Regions from separate parts of the Homo sapiens genome. Here region 2 is linked to region 1. The links come from fine-mapping of genetic effects on gene expression. Tissue or cell type: nasal epithelium. Region 1 holds a variant in brackets; the other region holds the start of a gene. All regions are shown on one strand. Distances are from middle to middle.

Region 1 (8,135 bases):
TTCAGGGGCCTGATCGATTCCCCAACTTTTTTTCACTGAAACTTAATCTCACCCACCTTAATTCAAAAGCCTCAGGGCCCCAAACAAATAATGAACAGGGACTGAGGAAACAGTGATTTGGAAATAAAACAAACAAGTATCCTCAATGTGTGGCCTTTATTTTTTGAGACAGTCTTGTTCTGTCACCTAGAGTGGAGTGCAGTGGTGTGATCTCAGCTCACTGCCACCTCTGCCTCCAGAGTTCAAGCGATTCTCCTGCCTTAGCCTCCCAAGTAGCTGGAATTACAGACATGCACCACTATGCCTTGCTAATTTTTGTATTTTTAGTAGAGACAGGGTTTCACTATGTTGGCTAGGCTGGTCTTGAACTCCTGACCTCAAGTGATCCACTTGGCTTCCCACAGTGCTGGGATTACAGGCGTGAGCCACCGTGCCCGGCCTAATGTGTTGCTTTTAAATAGAAGTCATTTAATGAACATAGCTCGTATTTGCTTAGCTTACTATTTTAAACAAATAAATATCATTAAGTGCAATGAATTGAGTGGGGTGGGGGCGGGAAGGCAGGAGTTCCAGGGAGGGAAGAGCCCGGAGAAGGAAGGGTGCAGGGCAATCAGCAGAGGTCAGTGCAGGTGCATTCTCCAATTACATCCAGGCTCTGGCTTCAGCTTTAACTCAACCACATCCATGCCCCTAGAAACAGCTAAAAATAAAGGCCTAACACAGCTGACCTCCACAAGGGGAAGTCTAGGGTCTCAAAGGCCAGGGGATGGGGTGGTTGCTGGGAACTGTATTGGCGGTGTGTGGCCCGGGCAGTGGGACTGACTGCAGAAGGAGGAAGCCAAAGGAAAGCGGGGATGCAAGGGGCAGGGGGCACAGGGTATGGGGCTTCTGGGTGCTGGCAATGAGCTGCTTCTTGAGCTGGGTGCTCACACAGGTGTGTTCTGCTAGTGAAATTCAACAAGCTGCACACTTATTTGTCCACTTTTCTGTATGTATATTATACTTTAATGAAAAGTTATTTTTAAAAAGTAAAGCAGAGTTCTTCCCAGCATAGCCTCTTTAAAGAAAAAAAAAAAAAGTAAGCAGAGGCTGAATTGCACTTAATTGTGAAGTTTTGTGTTTTAAGATTGTTTGAAAATTTAAAAACATTAGGTTAATATGTAAGAAGTCATTAGGATTCCTTAAATAATCAATTTTTCTTTTTCTTTTTTTTTTGAGACAAGAGTTTCGCTCTTGTTGCCCAAGCTGGAATGCAATGGCACGATCTCAGCTCACTGCAACCTCCACCTCCCGGGTTCAAGCGATTCTCCTGCCTCAGCCTCCCAAGTAGCTGAGTTTACAGGCATGCGCCACCATGCCCTGCTAATTTTTTGTATTTTTAGTAGAAACGGGGTTTCACCATGTTAGCCAGGCTGGTCTCGAACTCCTGACCTCAGGTGATCTGCCCGCCTTGGCCTCCCAAAGTGTTGGGATTATAGGCATGAACCACTGCGCCTGGCCAATTTTGCTATCTATCTATCAATCTTATTTATTTATTTGTTAAGAGACAAGGTCTCACTCTGTCGTCCAGGCTGGAATGCAGTGATGCAGTCATGGCTCACTGCAGCTTCAACCTCCTGGGCTTAGCAATCCTCCCATCTCAGCTTCCTGAGTAGCTGGGACTACAGGTGTGTACACTACCACGCCTTGCTAATATATATTTTCTTAATTTTCAAATTTTTTGTGGAGACAGTGGTTTGTTATGTTGACTAGGCTGGTCTTGAAGTCCTGGCCTCGAGCAATCCTCCCACCTTAGCCTCCCAAAGTGCTAGGATTACAGGCGTGAGCCACTGTGTTTGGCCCAGTTGAGCTTACTTTTTTTTCCCTGCAATATAGTTTAAAGAAATTAACTTGCTCACTTATCTAAGAAAGTAAAGAGAAAGTCTGGGGCACATCCCTTACCCCCCCGACCCAGGCCTACATAGGTCCTTATTTCTAGATTTTTTTCTTTACCATTTAAGATTTATGTGGTTGTCACTGGTGCCATAGAACAAGGAAAAAGATTTTTAAAAAATACAATTGGCAGCTGGGCACAATGGCTCATGCCAGCATTTTGGGAGGATGAGGTGGGAGGAGCACTTGAGCCCAGGAGTTCCAGGTGCAGTGAGCTATGATCATGCCATTGCACTCCAGCCTGGGCAACAGAGTGAGACCCTCTCTCCAAAAAAAAAAAAAAAAAAAAAAATTACAATTGGCTGGGATACCAGATAGTGTTTCAAAGGAATTTTAGGCTGATTTAATCATGTTAAATCATAAGTGGTAAGACAGGAATTATAATACCTCGAGGACTCAAAAGTTTCCAGAGCGGGCTCCTCCAGCTCCCCTGAGCCACTGGCTTCCCTTGCCTTGGGGAGTAAGGAAGCTCAGTGTCCACTCACCTTGTCTTGTCTGTCCAGGGCACACCCTTCGTGGATGAGCGCCGCGATGATCTCCGTGTTCCCCACCACTGTGGCCCGGTGCAAGGCGGTCTGGTCCCCCTGCAAAGTGACACAAAGGCAGGAACAGCAGTCAGCTCCCCTGCACCCCCTGCTTGCACTACTCACTTGACACTTGGACACAAGGACCCCTCCCGTCCCCACACAGAGCAGAGCGGTTATTCGCAGAAGGGCTTGGTTACCACAGGCAAGGCGGGCTTTGTGGTCTTGTTAGTAGACAACGCACGCTGGCAGAGAAATTTTGTTCATAAACTAAGAGGGGGACCTTAAGCCGACAGCAAGAATAGCCCTCGGCCACAGAGCCAACCTCAAAATGAGGGTCAGGCTCTCTCCTGCCATCCAGGGGCTATGACTATCACAGGTGTGAAGAGTGGGTGTGAGGGCAGGTGTGTGCTATGCAATTAAAGCAGCAATGCCTGGAATCTCTACTGCCTGCCGAGTTTCCAGCTTGCAGGGGGACCACTGTCCAGCTCTGCCAGTTAGCAGCACTCATGATTTGATGACAGGCGGGTCATTTGTTCATTGACCTGTACTAGTCAACGGCAATGCAGGGGTTTGCCCTATTTCATCTGAGGACTCCAGGGACTGCAGCTATCACTGCATATTTCTAAGAAGCCTCTTCAGAGAGTTCATGACAACATCCTCACTGATTTATGCTGCACTCTGAGCCCTCTTCTCTATGATCGGATTCCTGGGATTGCCGGCCGTTGTTCTCCTTTAGGCGCCAAAGGGAACTTGACTCTTCCTAATTGCAGTTGAGTGAAGGATGAAACACTCCCAGAGGTAAGCAGGTCAAGACTGTAACAGGAGAGTTCTGAAGTCTCTAAGAGCACCCTTTATCTCTGACAGGTCCTCAGGAAGCTAAGTTGAGGTAAATCAAGCTGAGCCTGTGGTCCAGCCTTGAAAGGGAGGATGGGTGGGCAGTGTGGAAATGTTCTGGTGGAAAGCAATGAGCACGAGACAAGGGGTCAGGAGGCCTGGGCTGTGCATGGCTTGCTAGAAGCCTGTCACCCTGCTGGACCTCAGGTGTGTCACCCTGGATGATCCCAGGGTCCCTCCATTGCCTTCTTGGATTCTATGATGTGGCTGGTCAGAGTTTTGTGAAGTTTCCTGGCAGAGCACCAGAGGGGCAAAGAAAACATTCTGGGGCGTCCCTGGTGCTTGGCCCAAAAGAGGACAGAGGCCATCATAAGATAAAACAGATTTTTTAAAAGAAGGATGCACTGCTACCTATAAACAACCTTAACGAAATACTGATTCTACTTACTAAACTCCCCAGATCTGTAACAAACAATGCACATTAAAAACATGTAATCTGAAACAAAGTTCTAAAGATAGATGGTGGTGATGGTTGCACAACAATGTGAGTGTACTTAATGCCACTGAACCGTATACGTAAATATGTTCAGACAGTAAATTTAATGCTATGTATATTTTATTACAATAAAAAATCCTAGTTAAAACTCAAAATTGCTTTCTTAAAATTAAAAAGTCTCCCTTTAAAAATCCATGAAAGGATTTTTCTCTTTTAACTTTTTATACTTTTTAATATTTTCCAGCTTTTTATATTTAACAC[G/A]GATAACTTTTAGCATCAGGAAAAACCGCTACTTATTAGAAGTCTGAGCAGAAACAATACCCCAGTAACAGGACTGTCCCTGTCACAGACTCTCTTCCCACTGTTCATTTGTGGAAGGTAAGGAATTTCTGCAGTGAGGGGGGGTCAGGACACTGAGGACAGATCACTGTCCTCAGCACTGCCACCACCGACCTCCCCCCTTCAGCATCCTAAACTATTATTCCTGTTATCAGTTAGGTTCAGGCTGATTTTCTTCTCATCCACCTTCCCAGACCCCTTATTCAAAGAGAACCCTTGCAGTGGTTAAAAAAAGAATGTGGCCGCTGGGTCAGTGGCTGCAGGAGGTAGGCTGTGCCATTTGCGCTGTCTACCTCAGACCTCTTAGAAAGCAGTTCTAGACAAGGAAACTAGTAATCATATGAGATACTGCCCAAGTCTCAACTTTTTGTTTTTGTTTAGAGACAGAGTCTCGCCCTGTCGCCCAGGCTGGAGTGCAGTGGTGCCATCTTGGTTCACTGCAACCTCTGCCTCCCAGGTTCAAGCGATTCTTCTGCCTCAGCCTCCAGAGTAGCTGGGATTACAGACACTTGCCACCATGCCTAATTTTTTTTTTATATTTTTAGTAGACATAAGGTGTCACCATGTTGGCCAGGCTGGACTTGAACTCCTGGCCTCAAGTGATCTGCCCACCTCCACCTCCCAAAGTGTTGGGATTACAGGCGCGAGCCACCGTGCCTGGCCCCACGTCTCAACTTTTTAAAATTTCCGTAAGATTTCCAAGACTTCCCATTTCTCTATCAGAATGGTGACGGAATTTCCCAAAATAGGCCTCCAGTGCAATGATGATTACTGACCTGCTAAGAAAGACAGTGCCCTTCTTAGCAAGAACCACGCGACTGCAGCTCACGCTTTCAGGGTAGTGCTGACTTGGTTAGATTTCCACTTCTTACAGGCTTTTTAATATAACCACAAACTACTTACACTCTAGTGCTCTTTGGACCAATAAAAACAACTTTTTCCAGGACAAAGCTTATCACTCTGTATTGTTCATGAAGTATGAGCAACAAGCCCTGAGCATATGGGTCGTGTTAGCCACTCTTGCTGTACAAATTATTTCACGAAGGGCCTTCACTGGATGGTACGGCACAGACTAACCTAAGCCTTGGTTTAGGTCAAATATTTTTTGTCATGTTTCACAAGCTGCCCTCTAAATTATGAGTTGAGGTATCTTTGGAGCCGGAATGGCACCAAGTTATTTATTACTTGCTTTCATCATCAATCTACTGTATTTGCTTCCTTTGAGAAAATTTTCCTTTGTGAAACTCTAGCTCAATGCAAGCAGCTCAATCTAACTTTCAGTTCAGACCTTGGGAGGACATTTCCAGACTAGCAAGACTCAAGGAAATCTAATGACTTGTGTGAGGTTGCGGCGAGAACACATAGTGTCCTAAGCTGCTGGCAAAGGTCCTGCACACCCCTTCCTCTGGGGGACCTTTTGGCTGTCCTGCCTGTTTCCAGGCCACAGCTCCCCCTCCAGCCGTCCTCTCAGACAGAGACCTCACCGAGAGCCCGGGTCAGATAAACACTGCTGTCAGGCCAGGCTCGGACTCTCCCTACCAAAAGTGGCTGTCCTTGGCTGTACTGCTAGCTGTGCTGACACTAGCTGGAATGGTTCTGGAGGACTGGGCAATACGCTTTCTCAGGCTTTGAAAAACCCACCCTTCTCAAGTAACCAAGATGAGAATTAAAGGCTCTGAGGTGAGAGACATGAAACATGTAAACAATAGCTGCCTCAGGTTATCATCTTGGATCTATTCTTCCCTAGAATACAACACAAACAATTTAGTACCTTGAGGCCCTCAGTTGAAACAGGGTCAGTTATCTACAAATGGACTCTTTCCTCCTATAAGATTAAAATTTACCATTGAAACATTTCCTCCTTGAAATGACACGAAGAAACAAGATGTGGCCTCAATACATACAAGTGGCTACTTTGACATAATTCTTACTTGCATATGATACCTACCTAAGTCAATCATGAAATTCTTAAATGCTGGGAAAAGGTAGAGCACTCTCAACAGTGTTTACTGAATTATCTATTTGGTGAACATCCACTCATTTTGAGACAGGGTCTCACTCTGTCACCTATGCTAGAGTGCAGTGGCATGATCTCAGCTCACTGCAACCTCCACCTCCCAGGCTCAATCAATCTTCCCACTTCAGCCTCCTGAGTAGCTGGGACCACAGGCATTTGCCACCATGTCCAGCTAATTTTTTTATTTTTTGTAGAGATGGAGTTTTGCCATGTTGCCCAGGCTGGTCTCCAACTCCTGGGTTCAAGCAATCCTTCCTCCATAGCCACGCAAAGCACTGGGATTACAGGTGTGAGCCACCAGGCCCGGACTGAATATTTATTGACTCCCTACTGTGTGCCAAGTCTAATTCTCTCATTTTATTGATGTCTAATTCTCTCATTTTATTGATAAGCCTAGGACAGCATGCTTGGACCAGAAATCAAATTGTCAAGGCTCTTTGCACTCACCCCAAGCTGCTTCCAACCTGTGAAGTCATTAACCTTAGGACGAGCCTCAGAAAAGGTCAGATGCATCTGTGGGGTTGGGACTGCCTCTTTCATAAAGTAAAGCATAGCCACTAGAGCTGCCCCAAAAGCATTTGTTGAATGATTAACTACAAGAAGCAGAAGGAAAGATGCTGTAGCTGGAAACCTGAAGGGCCTGCAACCTTGCAGTTTGGCACTTTGATTTGGAACATGTTGACCCATTTGCGAAGTACGTGAACTGCCAGCTCTCAGTTTTTCTGAGACAGTGTTTCTCACTTTGGGATTTTAAGAGCTTTGGTGCCTATAAGGTCTAAATCTTTGTTTTGAAATACTGTTATTTTTCTTTCCTACATGGTGAAAAAGAGTGAGTGTAGTGTTGGCAGATTTCAGTCATGCAAGGGTGCAGTGTGCGCCTCTTCAAGAGGAAACACCCCCATGTGGCACAGGCAGACATACTGCAAGGAAGCTCAAGACAGGTTAGGTGTGTAAAGCAAGTTGCTGACCTCTTTTTCTCTCTCTGATCTTCTAGGGTCCTTCCTAACCTTCCCTCTGTGGTTTTTCTTATTTTTGTCTTCTTTCATGGCTTTCACTGTGGCCACAGCATCCTGGACTATTTCTGAGGCGGGAGCTATGTGATTGCTCATTGACCAATCAGAGATGGCATTAGCGCTCCAATGAGAGTTGACACGATTGGCAGGAAGCAAGAAAGAATTTGCTCCTGGAGTTGCATAATCTAAAGAACTGGTTTCCACAGGTTGAAATTCATAATAATCCCACTCCAGGCCACTGGAGGTCATTCTTCAACTAATTCTCAGTTCTTACCATGCCATAAAGATCAGTATCTGTAGAATATGAAGTTAGGAGTAAATTCTTCATATCATTAACATTCTCTGTTTCTACCCACCATCCAAGACAGGTAACTTCTGAGATTTTTTCAAATAACTGATCTCCTAGATTCTTTAAAGGACACACATCAAGAGTTTTCTTCCTTGATTTCTTGCATGTATTTCAAGGCTGGTCATCAACAGCATGGTAAATACACAGAGAACAGGCATGGATCATATTGCTGGCAAATGCATTTCTTCAGAACTAGTGAAGGTCAATTCTACCTTCTCCACTCCCAATTATTTCTTGTTGTTGTATTTTTATTTTAATTTATCTGGGAGAAGCAATATATGCATTGTCTCTCTAGGACAAGGAAAAGATGCAAGAAAATACCTTCAATAAATAAAAGGGACTCTCTCTGTCTAAAAGTAGAGCTGGCTTTTCTTCTGCTGACACGTCTCACTTTGGCTACCTAAGAAAATTCTTGCCTGTTTCACTTCCTACCTTGCCTGGTATAAACAGCAGCAGTTCTAGGAAATTAGCAAGGCTTTTGCTGCATGAGAACACAGTGATACTTAGAGCCCAGGATGTGAGGCAGGGGTGTCAAGTTGGAATGGGTTAGCATGCCTGGCATTTTGGCCTTGCCACTGTGGCAAGCAAAGCCTTTAATTATGCGAAGAGAAGACCAAATGCATCCCAA
Region 2 (8,135 bases), 170 kb after region 1:
TTTTCTAACACTGTGTAAATTCTATAGCTCATCTGTATCACTGGATATGAAACAAGGTAGGACGTATTGTATGCTATATTTAGAATACATTTGGAACATAAAGTGTAAACCAGAAGACACTCTTAAAATTAAATTTGCCTCCCCCAAAGCAGAATGTACTGGACTTCAGTCATTCAGTACCATCTTCATGAGTTTTTCCATAGCTGTGTACCTAATATATTATTATTTACTTCATATTTTTCTAGACCTAAGGAGGGCACAGAGAGATGTGGCAGTTGTGAGACTTCAGTTCCACATCTGCCCTATTCAGAAGTCCAAGATGTTCATTCTGGGACTTCCTTTGGCTCTTGAGGAATTGGTCCTGGAGTTTTCAGGATCCAGATGAATAGCTGGGGGCTCTGAGGAAAAAGAACTGGTCGGGCTTATCTGGGGTCTGAGCAGAAAGAAAGCCTCTTGTAACTGGTGGGGGAAAGATATGTCAGAGAACTGAAATGGGATAAGACATCCAAATAAAGGGGCCTTTTATGGGGTGGGGGTAGGTAGGAATCTGTAAATATTTCCTTATAGCGCTTACTAACCTTTTTTGACTTAGGAAACCATTTGAGAATCTGATGAAAGCTATGGAACTTCTTCCCCCTCAAACATACATAAGAGCATTCACTTAAATACTTATACATAATTTTGGGAGATCTTAGAGTATTTGTAGCCCACCACTGAACCCCAGGTTAAAAATTCTTATTTTAGTGACAAATTTAATAGCTGATCCTCAGGTTTATAAAGGAACCCACCAGTAAATAATGCAGACACTTCCCTATAAAAGAGAGAGAACATAGCTATTTCTTCCATCTCTTCCCCCTTGACGGGATGAGGAAGAGCTGGGAAATAGAGATAATGTCACCCCTAAGCTTTTCTCTGCTGCTGTCCCTAACCTCAGTGCCTTGGTACAGTCCAGCAGTGGGGCACCATCAACAGAATTTGTTTTTAAAAAACGTTTAAAAACTTTATTTTGAAATAATATTAGTCTTACATAGAAGTTGCAAAAATAGTACATGAATTCCCTATTCTGTCCTCCCCCTACCCCTGGTAACTACCATTCTACTTTCTGTCTCCATGTGTATGACTACTCTAGGTACCTAATATAAACAGAATCATACAATATTGTCCCTTCTGTGACTAACTTATTTCACCTAGCATAATGTTTTCAAAGTTTACTATTTTGGACCCCCTGACTGGGTGTTTTGCAACTATAGCAAATTAAAATGGGCAATGTAGAAAATCTGAAAATTTCAATGGAAACTAGTATACCAAACATGTCTGGACACTGCTGAACCTATTAACTGGAGGTAGTTTGCAGTTTCAACAGTAGATCATGTTACATTCCTATCCAAGACAATACATCTTTGCAAAGCTGGGTTTTCTGTGGCTGCTGTGATAAAAGCCAAATGCTGCGGAAATATTAATGTGAAACAGGAAATGAGAGTGGCAGTGTCCAACACGATCCCAAGGTTTGAAAAGTAGTATAGGCACACACATACGGTTAGTAATTATGACTTTAAAGGATGTAAAATATTTTTTCTCTCAGTTTATGTATATTATTTTTTCAAACAACTTCTAAGTAAATACTCAGTTGTTTGAACCTAACTACTAACTACTGAAACCTAAGGGAATTGTGAAAAAATTACTAACTACTGAAGCCTAAGGGAATTGTGAAAAAATTAACTCAGACACTAAGGGCTCCATGAAACCAAGTTTCAGAATCTTTGCCTTAACCAAGAAGTAACAAAACAGTGTAAGATTCACCAAGGAAAGCCATGTGACCTTGAAGAAATAAAACAAAGACAATAACACAAACATATCAACCAGGAAGAGGAATTTGGGTTGTTAAAACCATTTTTAAAGGTCACTCTTAGCTTAATCCTTCAAATCCCACACAATGCCTTCTGGATAATTTGCATTTTTAAAAAAACTTCTAAAACGCACGCACCCAAATTACTGTTTTCCCACTTCTTAGGGACTCAAGCAAAGCTTTTAAAATCACAGCCATCAATCTATGTTGGAAGAGACTGGGTCTCCCCTACACAGACAGAACACACCTTCGGGATCCGTGCCAGGGAGACAGGAGAAACTTGGAAGAAGACAGAGACTAAAAGATCCCCCGACTTTGAGACTTTCGGCTTTTTTGTGGTTTGTATCTTACCCTCAATAGCCTGCTTTTAAGTTCAATAACAATGCTCCTTGAGAAAAAAAGAAAAATAAAGAATGCTCCAGGTTATTGTGGAAATGCTTGTTGGGAAACTTCCTTTCCTCAGGGTTTTTCATATAAGCAAGGGAAAAAGTTAACACAACATCCAGAATAGTGGTTCCTTGGGTGGGAGGCGAGAAGTGAGTGGAAGGCAATGGAGAGGGGTACTCAGGGGCTCCAGGGGCCTGGCGATGTTCTAGTTCTTCAGCCGGGTGACTCGTACTTGGGTGTGATCTATTGTTATTCTTTACATTGCACTCTAAGGTTTATACTGTCTGAGTGTATGATGTATTTCACAGTGGCAGCACCAGCATCTCTATACAAGAAGGAGGCCTTGGGAGTTGGAAGTGTGCCTTGTCTCTAAGCTGAGTTGGATCGCAGGCAGTCTGCTTTTACATGGAGCATATGCTTATCTGGAAAGGCTTTGGGGAGGCTGATGAGTTTAAGTGGGAGACTAAGATTAATTTTTGGTGCCACCATGAAAAAACAAGGAGTTAATAAATTCACATTTTTAAAAATTACCATTGGTTTATACCTCCCAACACTGCGACTAGTTGTTTTCTGGTCTCTTTAATTCCTCTTCATCCCTCTTCTACCCTTCCCCCATGTCCAGTATGACCTAGAGGGCAGAAAATACTCCCCAATTTTAATTTGTATCCCTAATTTTTAAAAAATTTTTTGTTACCATATGCTAAACAAATACTAAAGATGACAAAGTGTAACATGTATCGGTATAGACACACCTACTACACTCAAGAACAAGGCTGCAGACCAGTACAGTGGCTCACACCTGTAATCCCAACACTTTGGGAGGCTGAGACAGGAGGAGTTCGAGACCAGCTTAGGCAACACAGTGAGACTCTGTCTCTAGTAAAATAAAAAAATTCAAAATTAGCCAGGTGTGGTGGTCCCAGGCTGAGGTGGGAAGATCGGTTGAGCTAAGGAGGTCAAAGCTTACAGCCTGGGCAACAGAGCGAAACTCTGTCTCAAAACAACAACAACAAAAACCCCGCCAAGGCTGCTATTGGTGTTTTGGGGATGAGAAACCCCCAATCAGTATACCATGGATGGGACCACCTTGGACCCAGGTGTGTTTGTCTTCATTGCCCAAGTTCTTTCCACTTACACTGGCCTAACAGAACCTAAGCATGAATGAATTCAACATCCAACAGGTTCGCAAAAGGTGTCTAACACACAAGAGTACAATGCCAAGCATTTCATTCCCATCACTTCACTGCATGAACACAATACTACGAGGTTATGTACAATACCTGCAGTTTAGAGTTCTAAAAACTAAGGTTTAAAGAAGTGGGTTTTCCAAAGTCACACACCTAACAAGTGGTGGAGTCAGAACTCCATCTCACGGGCCCGAAGTGGCTCTTTACTACCACGTGACCCATCTCATGCTACCTCGCGGGGGAAACATTCTTGACCAGCTTTGAGACATTCAAGTCCCTCTTGGGTCACAAATAATGCTGCACTTCCCCTCCAGTCCCCGAGATCTACCGGAAGCAACACACTTAAAAGCCCAAGATAAGCTTGGGTGAGCTGATGTCTGGACCCAAACCAGACAGCACGCCGACTCTCTGGACCCCGGGAGATGCCACTTGCTGAGGCTTCGCCGATGGGGCTCCTGAGGGGTATCGGCCCCTCTCCTGCGACTGCACCCTAGTGCTGTCGTCCAGGGCGGGGAGGGACGGGGTCATTCGGAGGCGGCCGCAGGCCAGGGACCTACCCTCCTACGCGCCGCAGACCGCGGGGTACTCGGACCCCCGCCCCCACCGCCCTTCCTTCAAACTGCAAGCGAGCAGGAGAACGAGGGACGAGCCCCAGAAGAAAGTTCTCCACCTCCCTCGCCCGAAGTTCCATATTCCAGGGAGGCAACTGATGCCAGGCGAAGAGGGAGGCGCCCCGGGGGGACCCCCTCGCGCCGGGCGTTTTCGGAGGCCGCAGGCCAGGGGGCGAGGCGCGGTGTCCGGGTCTCCTCCGCGGGCAGTCGGCGATCCTGGGGTGCCGAGGGAGCAGCGCCCCCTTCCCCCGACAGCGTCCTCCCCGACCTGAGGCGCCCACCCCGGTGTAAGCGGGGGTCCCAGGGAGCCGGCGAGGTCGCCTGGTACCTTTCTCTCCCGCGCCGGACGTCCGCGCCGCAGGGACCAAGGCCGGCGACACGGTGGGGGGCGAGGGGCGAAGACGGGGACTGGCTCCCGCTGGCTCCGGCGGCCCCAGGGCCTCGGCGCCGCCCAGCGCCGTGCCTCCAGCCGCCCGCGCGCCAGGCAGCGCTCTCGGCTCCTGCGGGTTACCTGTGGCCGAGCCCGCCGCGTCCGCCGCCGCAGGGCCCTCTGCCCCGTCCCGCCGGCCCCGCCCCACCCCTGCCGGCGGCTCCTACGCCGGTGCCGCAGCGCCTCCCAGCGGCGAGCCGGGGCACGGCAGGGACCCTCGCGAGAGAGAGGTGGCACCGCGGAGGCCCTGGGGCTGGCCCCGATCTGCAGCCCTCTCCTGGGTGGGGCCACCGCCTTCTGAAGAGTGGGAGGAAGGGGGCCTATAGTAGGGTGAGGTTTTCCGCGTGGGGGTTGCCAGGAAGTGTATTGGGAGGGGAGGAGAATTAGCAGGAGGAACCTCCCACCTTCACTCAATTCGTGGCCAAGTGGATATTTCAATATAACCATAGCTCACTTAACTGGGGCTGCTCAGTACAAACTGAACAACAATGATGAATGACCCAGATTTATTGGGGTAGCTGGAGAGGGGAAAGGAAGCCTTTATTTCTAACAGCTTGACTATAAGTATCTTGTTGGAATCATCCCATATGGAAATGGCAAAAGCATTGAGCGAGCCTGACCCCCATATTCATATCACACTTTACATACCATTATCTCAGTCTGGTTTTGTCTATTTTCATTCACAGCCACTTCTTCAATACCTAGAAGAGCTCCCTGAACACAGGAAGCATTCAATAAGCTACTGTTGAATACATGTAAGATGGATGGGATCTCATTCCACCCTTTGAAGAAGCATGGACAGGTATCTGCTCTCCAAAGGCGGAGAGATGGAAGAGGAGGCAAGCAGCACCCTAAAATGGACTATCAATCTTACCTGAGGTTTTGGGACAAGCTTATCACGAATCTGATTTTTTTTTCTTTCTTGCTTAAAATTTTTTTTTGAGACGAAGTCTCACTCTGTCACCCAGGCTGGAGTGCAATGGCACCATCTAGGCTCACTGCAACCTCCGCCTCCCAGGTTCAAGTGATTCTCCTGCCTCAGCCTCCTGAGTAGCTGGGATTACAGGTGCCCGCCACCATCCCTGGCTAATTTTTGTATTTTTAGTAGAGATGGGGTTTCACCATATTGGTCAGGCTGGTCTCGAACTCCTGACCTCGTGATCCTCCAGCCTCGGCCTCCCAAAGTGCTGGGATTACAGGCATGAGCCACTGCACCCAGCCGACTTTTCTTATTCCCTCTGAAACAGGCCTGGTTTCCAGGAGAAAAGAAACATGATGATTTCTTCCTTTTCCTTAAGATGTTTGTTTCCCTCTCTCCTTCAGGGATCATTAGGCAGGAGAGATCCCAAGAGCCTGTTTCCACACTAGGAAGGGGAAGTTCTTGATTTTCTCCTACTGCTTCTGAAATTTTCCCAACCCCATAGTCACAGCTGCAGTTTTACCTAACAGGATGTGAAATCTCTCTTCTGAGTATCCTTTGGCCTTTTCCAGACTTTTTTTTCCCCCTTAAGATGGGGCCTTGCTGTGTCACCCAGGCTGAAGTGCAGTAGCCCACTGCAGTCTTGAACTCCTGGGCTCAAGCAATCCTCCTGCCTCTGCCTCCTGAATAGTTGGGATTACAAGTGTGCACCACCATGCCCAGCTAATTTTTTTATGTTTAACACAGAGGAGGTCAAGGCTGGTCTTGAACTCCTGGGCTCAAGTAATCCTCCGGCCTCAGCCTCCCAAAGTGTTGGGATTACAGGTGTGAGCCACCGCGCCCAGCCCTTCTTCAGATTTGTGCCCCATTCCTGTTGCTCTACACCTGGAGCTGATAGAAGAACACATTTCCTTTCTCTGCTGGCTTGTAGCTCCAGGTTTCTCTCCAGGCAGGTTACTAATGAGTTCCTAGATAACCCTCAAAGTCAAAGTTTGTACACATGACCTTTCTTTTTATTTTTTGAGATGGAGTTTTGCTTTTATTGCCCAGGCTAGAGTGCAGTGGTGCAATCTCGGCTCACTGCAACCTCCACCTTCCGGTTTCAAGCAATTCTCCTGCCTCAGCCTCCCAAGTAGCTGGGATTACAGGCGCCTGCCACCACGCCCAGCTAATTTTTTTGTATTTTTAGTAGAGACGGAGTTTCACCATGTTGGTCAGGCTGATCTCGAACTGCTGACCTTGTGATCCACCTGCCTCAGCCTCCCAAAGTGCTGGGATTACAGGTGTGAGCCACCGCGCCCAGCCACATGACCTTTCAATGTGATCATTTCTCTCTTGTACTTTTCCACATTGAGTTTTCCTAGCTAGTCCCTCGAATAAACTTCCAAAGATGCAAATGCTCAGTTTCCCTGATAGGCTTTTAAAACATCACCAGAAAGTCACATTGAGATGAGATTTTAAGTTATATTTGTGGGTAGTCAGAGCAATGACCCCGAAAGAAACAGAAAGCCCAAGCCAGCCTGCAAGACATGTGAGCGCTCCTGGGAACTGACTGGTCTGCTTTTGTTCCCAGACTTTGATTAATGGGGATTCCTGGCAGGAGGTCTCATGAGAGCCAAAGCAGGCAGTGGCTGAGCTGCTTGGAGATCTTGCTTGCTTATCTCCAAGTGGGCAGACAGTCTTTGGGCGACCAACGAAGAAGACTCCTAAATCTCCCTCTTTATGAGAAGGGCTCCCAGGCTGCAGCTCTGTTCTTGCCCCTACGTTCAGCTCAATCACAGCCAGCCTCTTATATTCACCCTAGCTCACCCTCCTTCTGCCTTGTGAGAAAGAAGTTTGCTCTGCAAATGATCATTTTCACTGCTTTGTGATAATATAATCTGCTCCTATTTTCAACAACATGTCTTTAATGAGCTGACTGCATTAGCTGTCTTTCATGTTGTTAGCTTCAACGCAGCCTTCAACACACCATTCTGGCTTCCATCCCTGCCACTCCACTGAAACTGCCTTTGCTAAAGCTTCCACTCAAGGAAGAACCCTTCCATCTGCCGCTCTATAATCATATCCTTCTCTTTCAGAGGAAACCACCATCCTAAGTTTTGTGTTAATAATTATGTTATCACAAATATATGTGTCCCTAAACACTACATGGTTTGTTTTTGCGTGTTTTTGAGCTTTTTTAAAATAGAATCATTCTGCATTATTCCCATGCAACTTGCAGCTTTTGCCCAGCATTATGTTTCTGAGATTCACCTATCTGATTTCTCTGTTATATAGGTATTTTGTTGTAAAAACATAACACAATTTAATTACCCATTCTACTTTTGGATGTTGGATTGGCTCCAGTTTTTGCTATTGCAAACAGTGTTGCTGTGAATATTCTTAAATATTTCTCCGATACATGTGTGTAAGAATGTTTTTTAGGATATATACCTAGAAGTGGAATCATCAGGTCTTAAGGTAAGTGCACGTTCAAATTTACTAGGTAATGTCAAACTGTCTAAACTGGTTGTTTTCTAAAATTGTTTTCTAAAGTGGTCATACCAATTTTCATTTCTAACACCTGTATATGAAAGTCATCTGGCCGGGCATGGTGGCTCACGCCTGTAAATCCCAGCACTTTGGGAGGTCGAGGCGGGTGGATCACGAAGTCAGGAGATCGAGACCATCCTGGCTAACACGGTGAAACCCCATCTCTACTAAAAATACAAAAAATTAGCCTGGCATGGTGGCGGACGCCTGTAGTCCCAGCTAC

What was found. PIP is the estimated chance that this variant, and not a neighbour inherited with it, causes the effect.
Region 2: it holds the start of ANKRD6, and the variant in region 1 is fine-mapped to the expression of ANKRD6 in nasal epithelium (TOPMed, PIP above 0.99).

What each region holds. Positions count from the first base shown.
Region 1 is chr6:89,597,410-89,605,544 of GRCh38, reverse strand. It overlaps ANKRD6 (ankyrin repeat domain 6), which reads right to left. Exons shown (of 16, transcript NM_001242809.2): 4 at 2,418-2,516. LOC124901359 (a long non-coding RNA gene) reads left to right here. Exons shown (of 2, transcript XR_007059673.1): 2 at 1-141. Among named protein-coding and RNA genes, the nearest start is that of MDN1-AS1, 37 kb to the left of the region's middle. The variant G/A (reference allele first, on the strand shown) is at 4,051.
Region 2 is chr6:89,429,600-89,437,734 of GRCh38, reverse strand. It overlaps ANKRD6 (ankyrin repeat domain 6), which reads right to left and starts at 4,583. Exons shown (of 16, transcript NM_001242809.2): 1 at 4,360-4,583. It overlaps LOC124901360 (a long non-coding RNA gene), which reads left to right. Exons shown (of 2, transcript XR_007059675.1): 1 at 1-4,318; 2 at 5,148-7,527. RefSeq lists a silencer at 4,312-4,791.